2 separate regions of the Homo sapiens genome follow, and region 1 is linked to region 2. Evidence: fine-mapped expression QTL. A gene starts in region 2. The other region holds a variant in brackets. All regions are shown on one strand. Distances are between the middles of the regions. Region 1 holds the start of DLG3 (discs large MAGUK scaffold protein 3). Region 2 holds the start of GDPD2 (glycerophosphodiester phosphodiesterase domain containing 2).

Evidence for each region. PIP is the estimated chance that this variant, and not a neighbour inherited with it, causes the effect. A credible set is the group of variants that fine-mapping cannot tell apart.
Region 1: its variant is the best candidate, but not a certain one, in a credible set for the expression of GDPD2 in visceral fat (GTEx, PIP 0.81).

Annotation. Positions count from the first base shown.
Region 1 is chrX:70,442,231-70,446,481 of GRCh38, reverse strand. DLG3 (discs large MAGUK scaffold protein 3) reads right to left here and starts at 1,647. Exons shown (of 19, transcript NM_021120.4): 1 at 924-1,647. The coding sequence starts at 1,280. RefSeq lists an enhancer at 1,343-2,129. The variant T/C (reference allele first, on the strand shown) is at 1,828.
Region 2 is chrX:70,420,717-70,424,967 of GRCh38, reverse strand. It overlaps GDPD2 (glycerophosphodiester phosphodiesterase domain containing 2), which reads right to left and starts at 1,654. Exons shown (of 16, transcript NM_017711.4): 1 at 1,586-1,654. KIF4A (kinesin family member 4A) reads right to left here. Exons shown (of 31, transcript NM_012310.5): 31 at 4,082-4,251. RefSeq lists enhancers at 711-1,699, 1,700-2,688.

The DNA of each region.
Region 1 (4,251 bases), 22 kb before region 2:
TCTAGAGCGAGGAGGCTTGCTTCAGTTCCTTCAAATCTCCCCCCGCCCCCCGCCACCCCACCCCGGCACACACACTACAGAGCTGCTTGGACAAAAGAGTCCGTCCTTCTCAGCAGCCTCTCAGCCTTGCTTGGGACATGTCTCTCGCCTCCTTCCTCTCCCCTCCCTTGCCTGTCAAGCGCCTCTCACCAGAGACAACACATACAAACACACACTCACACACACACACCAGGCACACGCGTGCACACTCTTGCAGCCACATGCTCACACACATATACATGTAGCCACACACACAAACACAGCCATCCCTGCAGCCTCCTCTACAGAGACCTCTCCACATTCAGAGTGACATCTCCACACATCCATGTGCACATTCACACACAAAGGGACTGGGACGGAGAGGGACTCATGGCATCAAGGGATGAAGCTCAGCGAGCCGGGCACATGGGCTCCTCCACACGGATTCACGGCAGCTCCATTGCCTTCCTCCACACACCCCAACATACATACACACACATATGTCCCCCCTACGCAGAGCACCATGCCCCCTCCCCTCCCCTCCGGTGGAGACACACACCACACACAGCCCCCGCAGAACCTCCCGCCCCCTGCCAGACACAGAGACATTGCCAAACCCCCACACTGAGACAAACCCAATTCCCCCACACAGGAAAATGTGCCCCTCCGCCATGCCCTTACCCCCTGACACACGGCTCCTCCCAGTCTTCTAATGGAGACCCCCAAACAGACACACACAGGGAACCACACATTTCCCACCGCCTCTCTTTGCCCAGCTGCAATGCTAGGGCTCGGGGTCCACAGGCTTGGAGCCCCAGCGACCCCTACTGCATCCCAGGCCTCTAGGCCCCCACTCTCCAGCCCTCCTGGGTTGCCCCACCGCTCCCCCCTCCGCTGGTCCATACCTGCTCATACCAGTCCCGGTTGGTACAGGTGCACTCTGGCCACCAGCTGGGGCCGCTGCCGTTGAGTTTGGGGGTGCTCTTGCCCGGGACTGGCTTAGGAGGCACCGGCCCCACATCCCGGCCGGTGGGGATGAGCTTGGCCTTGGTGCGAGGGGTGGGGGTGGCCCCCGCCTGCGAGGGCAAGGTCTGCGAGCTGTAGCCCCCATAACCCGCGCTGGCGCCGTTGCCCCCACCTGGCCCGTAAGGGTCGGGGACTTGCCAGTCGCCGTAGCCCGGAGGCTCGAGGCGCCGCAGGGCGGCCAGGCGGGTCACCTCATAGCACTCAGGGCACTTACAGCAGTGCTGGTGCTTGTGCATGGCACTGCCCCCCGCGGCTCGGACCCCCCAGCCCACGCCGGATTCCACGCCGCCGCCACCGCCGCCACCACCGCCGCCGCCGCCGCCGGGCTCCCTGGCACACTCACACTGCTCGGACCAAGAAGGGGGGGGCACCCGTGGGGGCGCCCGGGCTGAGCGGGGCCTGGGGCCGGGCGGGCGTCCCGGGGCCTCGGCCCCCACGCTGCCCCGCACCCACGGCTCCCCCTCCAGCACTGGCGGCTCCGTGTCGCCCGTCGTGGCTTCTGGGCCGAGGCCCAGCGGCAAAGAAGAAGCGGGAGCTCAAGCAGAGAATGGGTGCTGTGAGGACCGCTTCTGCTCTGGTCCCCAGGATGGATCTGAGTGGAGTCAAGAGCATCTCTCCCTGGCTCCCTTCTCAGTTGATTCCAGCCAATCAGCGCGCAGAGGCAGGCAGCGGCAGCGGCAGCGGCGGCGGCAGGAATGCTAAACAGCGGCTACTTAAAGGAACAGAGGCAGCGGCGCCCCCAGGCTCAGCCCCAGCTCCCCCAATCTCTAGGGAACTGTTGGC[T/C]CTAAGGGCGGGGGCAGAGGACGTGGGCCACCAGAAAGCTCAGGCACCCGATCTTGTGCCCTTATATCGCCAGTTTTAGCCTGTCCTCTGCCCACTCCACCCCACCCCACTTCCAAGAGGGAGTTGCAGGGAGATGTTCAATGGGTCCCCAGGCTTGCTCTGAGCTGGGGCCACCAGAAGTAAAGACGAGGTAGCAGGATGGACAGAAAGGACGTTGGAGCAGGGTGAGGGAGGTGCTTTCTCTTACAGGGGACCAAAGAAGAAGGCAGCATATGAGGCCCGCTGTCCTGTCAATGCCTCCTACACAAGACTATTGTTCTCTCAGTCTCTAGGCCCTGAAATTACTGTGACCTCACACTTGACCTTCTACCATCACCAGTAAAGAACTCAACCCTAGAACAGGGATTAACAGAAAGCTCTAAGTCCTTGTCCCTGGCCCACAAACCCCTATCTCCTCCACTCCACCCCTGCATGGTTATGATGGGGGAAGGAACTTCAGGATATCAAGATGAAAGTCCAGGACAGGTGAAAAGGTAAGAAGGGATTTGAAGAGAGAGAAACCCTTCTATGGGTCTGGAATAGAGCTTAGGAATACTTGTCCAAGGACATCTCCTTACCCTCTCCTGGCTCAGCTTGTCGGGGGAATGGAGGAAGGATGACATACAAGAAAGACTATCTTTTTTGCAGTTCTTGTTTTGTTTTTAGCTACCAATTATTGGGTCTTTACAAAGTCCTAAGTGCATAACACGCAAACCCAAATCCTACCAAGCTGATGCTATTATTATCTTCATTTTACCAATGAGAAATTGAGGCTCAAAGATGTTAACACAGCTAGGTAACACAGCTGGAAGTGACAGAATCAGGATGCAAATCCTGATTATTTGACTCCAGAGTCCACGCTGTGAACCACTCTAGTACGACAGGTCTATTCTAAGTTCTCCTGCAGAATTTACATCTCAGTTCAATTCAGCAAATATTCATTGAGCACCTGCTCTGTGCAAGACCTTGACCTAGGTATTAGGGATACAGAGGTTCTTTTTTTTTTTTTTTTTTTTTTTTGAGATGGATTCTCATTCTGTCACCCAGGCTGGAGTGCAGTGGCGTGATCTCAGCTCACTGCAACCTCAGCTTCCCAGGTTCAAACGATTCTCCTGCCTCTCAGTCTCCCTAGTAGCTAGGACTACAGGCTCCTGCCACCACGCCCGGCTAATTTTTGTATTTTCTTAGTAGAGATGGGGTTTCATCACGTTGGCCAGGCTGGTCTCGAACTCCCGACGTCAAGTGATCCACCCACCTTGGCCTCCCAAAGTGCTGGGATTGCAGGTGTGATCCACTGTGCCCGGCCCTCAGAGATTCATTCTTAATTCAACAAATATGCGTGGAACACTTGCTGTGTGCCAGACACTGTTGTAGGATTTGGGGATATAGCAGGAAACAAAATAAAACAGAACAAACAGAACAAATCCCTGCCCTTGGGGAGCTTACCTCCTAGTGAGAGGACACAGACAAAAATAAACACAATAAATAAGTGAATTATGTAGTACAGTAGGTCCTCATTTAACATCATTGGTAGGTCCTTGGCAACTGGGACTAAGTGAAACAACGTATAACAAAACCAATTTTACCACAGGCTAATTAATATAAACAAGAGCTAAGTTCCTACAGCATATTTCTGGTCACAAAACATCACCCAGCTTCCAAATAAAGACCCAAAACACTTCTGATATTGAACATTGAAATAAATATGAGCTATGCATACATATAGAAAGATTAATGAAAACAAGTAAATAATTACCTAACCTTTGGTGAACCAGTGAGTGACAGCAGTGGAAGTGGTGGTGGGTTGAATCAAGGAATAAATGTATGCAAAGCGAAAATTGTAAGGAGCACCTCCCTACCACCATGCAGTTCAAAAGCAAACAATCACGAATATGGTGAGCTCGATGAGCACTTTCTTACCTCATAGTTTATTGTGCATTTGTATGATTATCAACTACTTGACAAATTTTTATTTTACAGTACTTTGTATCCATCCATCCATCCATCCATCCATCCATTCATTCATTTTTCAATCTGCTTATTTCAGTTCAGGGTCAAGGGTGGCCACAGCCTATCACAGCAGCTCAGGGTACAGGGCAGGAACCAATCCTGGACAGGATGCCATTCCATCACAGGGTGCGCTCACATACACACCCACACTCACTCACACTGGGACAATTTAGACACGCCAATTCACCTAACGTGCACTGGGATGTGGGAGGAAGCGCAGTACCCTGGAATACCCGAGAAAACCCACACATACATGGGGAGAGTGTGCAAACTCCACACAGACAGTGGCTCTGGCCAGGAATCGTTTTAGTTGTTTTTTTTTCCCCCTCATCAATGTTAAAACAAAATGATGTTGAAGAAAACAACATTATTCAG
Region 2 (4,251 bases):
AGGGACACTCGACCATCAGGGACCCTGGCAGAGGGCAGATCCCAGTCTCCCTCCTAGTGTATCTGAGGAGCCCGGGGGAGAGGCAGAGGCCTGGGCCGCTGCTCAGCAACGGAGGTCACGGGGCAGGCCCAGAGTGCCAGAGTGGATGAGGCGAGCAGCCCCAGCTGCAAGCCTGGCAATGGGAGACAGTCTCCAGAGCCTTCGTTTCCCTTTAATCTTGTTACCTGGAGAGTCAGTGGGACACCCAAGAGGTCCAGCCTCTTTTCGGGCAGGATTCATATCCACTCTCTCCAGCTCCTCCCCATTTAACAGCACACACCTCTGGGGATGGAGTGCTTGCCCTGGGGGTAAGAACTCAAGAGAAACTGCCCAGGGTGGGACAAACTCAGTTCAGCAAGTTAAAGCAGGTTTGGCCAAGCTGGAGGCAACCCCATGTTGAATTGCTTTCCAGCCCAGGAAGCAGGAGTAACCTGAAGCAAAGGTTACAGTTCTGACCTGGGGCTAAGGAAGGCCCAGCTAGTTGGCCAGTTGCTATGGTTATAGAGATTATTCAGATCACAAATCCCTGAAAGATTCTCTGTGTCCACCTCTCAGGGGACAAAGGGCACTGCCAAAAAGAGAAAGACTTGAGGTGAACATGTTGCCTGGGTCACTCCCAGTCTTCTAAAGGAATCTTTGGATTTTCAAAATACAGAGCCTCCCCTCAAGTCCTGCCCTTTCCTGCCCAGTCATCCCCCAACCCCAACCAGAAGCCCAGACTCGCCTTTAGGAGCCCCACCCTCTAAGTTAGCTTTGGTGAAAGTACAACAAACGCAGGGCAAAGGTGTGTATGCGGGGTGTGGTTGTCTTGGGGCAGGGGACCCCTGTACCTTATGCTTCTGGGTTTGGCTGACTGAGCTGATCCCCAGACTTGGCTGGGTACGTGACTGATTCTACGCGAGACGGTATGTGATTTGTGTCAGCATTTGCACGCGACAGCACAACTGGCTGTCGGTACAATATGATTTTAGGTGACTTTGAGTATGTAAAGGAGCCCCTGGATACACCCAAAGTGTGTGAGCATGTGTGCGTGCGGGCTGAGGGACAGGACCTCTTGTCCTCAGAGCTCTCCCGAGGCTATGGAGTCTTAGAGGGGTGCACAGTGGGTGGGTCCGGTAAGCAGGAAGGTGTGGCTGCTTCTGAACTGCCCTCTTTATGCTGCCTTGGGAAAGGAGGGTTAGGGTAGGGGTGAGGAGCTGGAGCTGGGGGAAGGAAACCCCTCCCCTCTACGAGACCCTTCCCGGTAAAAAGCCAACCCAAAGGGAAGCCCTTGCCTCTGCCCATCTTGGAGCTGGTTTGATAGCCTGCTCTAAGCTCTTGCCTCCCCTGGGGTCCTACCCCTGCACCCCAGACACTGCCTTCCAGAGTCCCCTCCCTTCAGGAGCTGCCTGTAGGATGGGATCAGGGTCTGAGCAGCCTGAAAACCCCAAGTAGGGTTGCTGACAGGGGTGCCATTCAATCCCCCGGCCCAATCCCAGTGGGATGGAGCTGGTCTCTGCTCCACAGCTCCCACCTGTAGCCCCCCAGCCTTCCCGAACCCTCACACCTTTGCTCAGCGGCAGCTCCGCTCCGCTCTCCTCTCTGCACTGCTTCCCAGCTCCTCTCCGAGTGGTCTGCCTCCTCCCTTTTTCAGTCCTCGGTTCAGCCCTATGAGTCAAACAGGTGGCACTGTTGCCACCTACAGGAGGCTGTGTGGGTCCTCTCCCAAGGCCTGCAGCTGCTCTGTGGCCTGGGCACAGCCCGGGTGGGAAGATGGGAGGGAGGAAGCGGGAGGGAGAGCAAATCTGCTTCTTTACTCGCTGGCGGTCAGGGGGCTTGGGGTGAGGAATTCCTTTGTGCAGGCTTTCCCATCCCTCTGTCCCTCCTCCTGTTCCCCTCCCAGTCACTGCCGGGGCTTTGTCCTGGCTCAGGGAGGCGAGGGCTGAGGGCACAGGCTGGCGGGAAGCTGGTGTGTGTGGGGGGGGGAGGTGACCACACAACTTTGCAACTTGGCAGTGAGGAGAAGAGGCCCAGCCAGCCCACTGGAAAGGCGTGTGTGTGTGTGTGTGTGTGCGTGTGTGTAAGCCTAACATCAAGTCTCAAGCTCCCTGGAAATACAGCCTTGATTCATTAGGCTCCCTCCCCTATTGAGCTCCTACTTCTAATTCAGCAAGGTGCATGTATAAGAAGCTGCAGCCTGGCGCGGTGTCTTACACCTGTAACCCCAACACTTTGGGAGGCCGAGGCGGGTGGATCACCTGAGGTCAGGAGTTCAAGACCAGCCTGGCCAACATGGTGAAACCCTGTCTCTACAAAAAATACAAAAATTAGCCAGGCATGATGGTGTGCACCTACCAAAGACTAGGTAGTTGCATGGGACATCTCACAAGGCCAGGTTTAAAGCAAAGACAAGCCTTGGTCATTTGTCCCAGCTACTTGGGAGGCTGATGTGGGAGGATTGCTTGAGCCCAGGACGTCGAGGCTGCAGTGAGTTGAGATTGTGCTACTGTGCTCCAGCCTGGGCAACAGAAGCTGCAAGCTACTTCCTGAACTCTGGATAGCAAGTTGCCGTTTCTGGACCAGAGGTCCCCATGGGCCTTGTGGATCCTGGGTGACACTAGCAGTTCTCCCACCTTCCCTCATCACCCCAGACAGGAGATGCTCATTCAGGACTTGTGTCATTTCTGCTGCCTTGTCCCTAAGGCATATGAGTCTCTTTCCAAGAATCTTTTGAGGAGTGTAGAGTATATTGGGGTCACAGGCTTTTGGAAGATGAACACATAGAAAAGATGCTGTTACTATAGCATCAGCATCAGCAGGGAAGGGCTGGCTAGCACACTATAGTTTGCTTAGTGCTAAAGCACAGGGGTCTGGGTGGGATGGGGGCCAGGGGCTGGCTTGGTTGACCTCTCCCTCTACATTACGCCTGATGTGGTGACTCGAGGTCTGGGGGCTATTAGTGCAGTGTTGGTGGGAAAGGATGTTTTCTCTGGGGATAAGCCTGCTTACCCCTCCCCCAACACACACTGGATTTCAAACAGTGAGAAGGAAGACTGGCTCTCTTATGCCAAGAGCTGGCCCCCCTCCCACTCAGGCTTCCCATTGTATCCAGAGGCTCTAGTTGGCAATGGCAGAGGCTCCCTTGCTCCCTCGGCATTAAAATGCAAAGAGAAGCAGGGCTGCTTGCTGGCAGGAGGCCAGGGAGGACCAGCAGGTCACCTAGTCCATGGCAGGCTTCATTCTAGGCAGATTGTTGCTCAATTTCTTTTGCTTGGGCTCTGGTGGATTCTAGAGGAGTCTTGGCTTTTGAGTGTTTGGGGATGGTTTGGGAGCTTTTTTGGGGAGAAGGGTTTTGGGATTCAGAATGCATGGATATGAAGCGCAGGGCTTGTGAGCATCTACCTCAGAAGGCTACAAGGCCAGTCAGCAGCTTGTGTATGGCATTCCAGGGCTGGCCCCCTTTTAGCTTTAAGCAGAGATAGAGAACACTGATAGACTGTAAGGCGTAAGCATCTTTCAAAGGAGAATGCAAGGAGCCAGTGCTGTTCTGTCCTGGGACTGGACAGCAGTGTGGTGCAACGCCCCTCCTACACTAAGAAATTAGGCTGCAGGGCATTAGAAGTGGCTGCTGCTGGCACTCTAGAGAGTTGGCTAGAGTGAAGCTTGGATGGTAGCTCTGCGTTCAGGTCCTAGCTCTATTGCTCACTAGCTTTGTGACTTTGGGTAAGTTACTTCTTTATACCCCAGTTTCCTCATCTGCAAAATAAGGACATCTATCTATGTTGACCTTTTTGTGTGTGTATGAAGAACAAATAAAACTGTAGCAAGAACATGGAGATGGTTAGTAAATGCGGTTTCTTCCTCCCAAATCTGGAAGCCAGGCAGGTTCTACAGTGGAGGTCAGGCCACTGGCCTTGCTAACGCGATTCTGATTTCCTAGGGTAGCAGAGCAACATAAAGACACATCACACTCCACAATACCCTCTGGGAAAGAGGGCAGCTACAATAAGGCAGGGAGGCTCAGGTACTTGTAATGAATCCCCTTAATAGCTTCCTCAGGGGCTGAGGAACACAGGTTGAAATTTTATTTCTCCCTCTAGCACAGAAGGATCTTCCCAAACAGTAGACGGGCTAAGGTTTATTTACTTACTTAACATTTAAAAATAATTCATTTGCTTCAACAACATGGCAGACAATCAAGAGTACTATTGAAACATAATTCAGAGAGGGTCA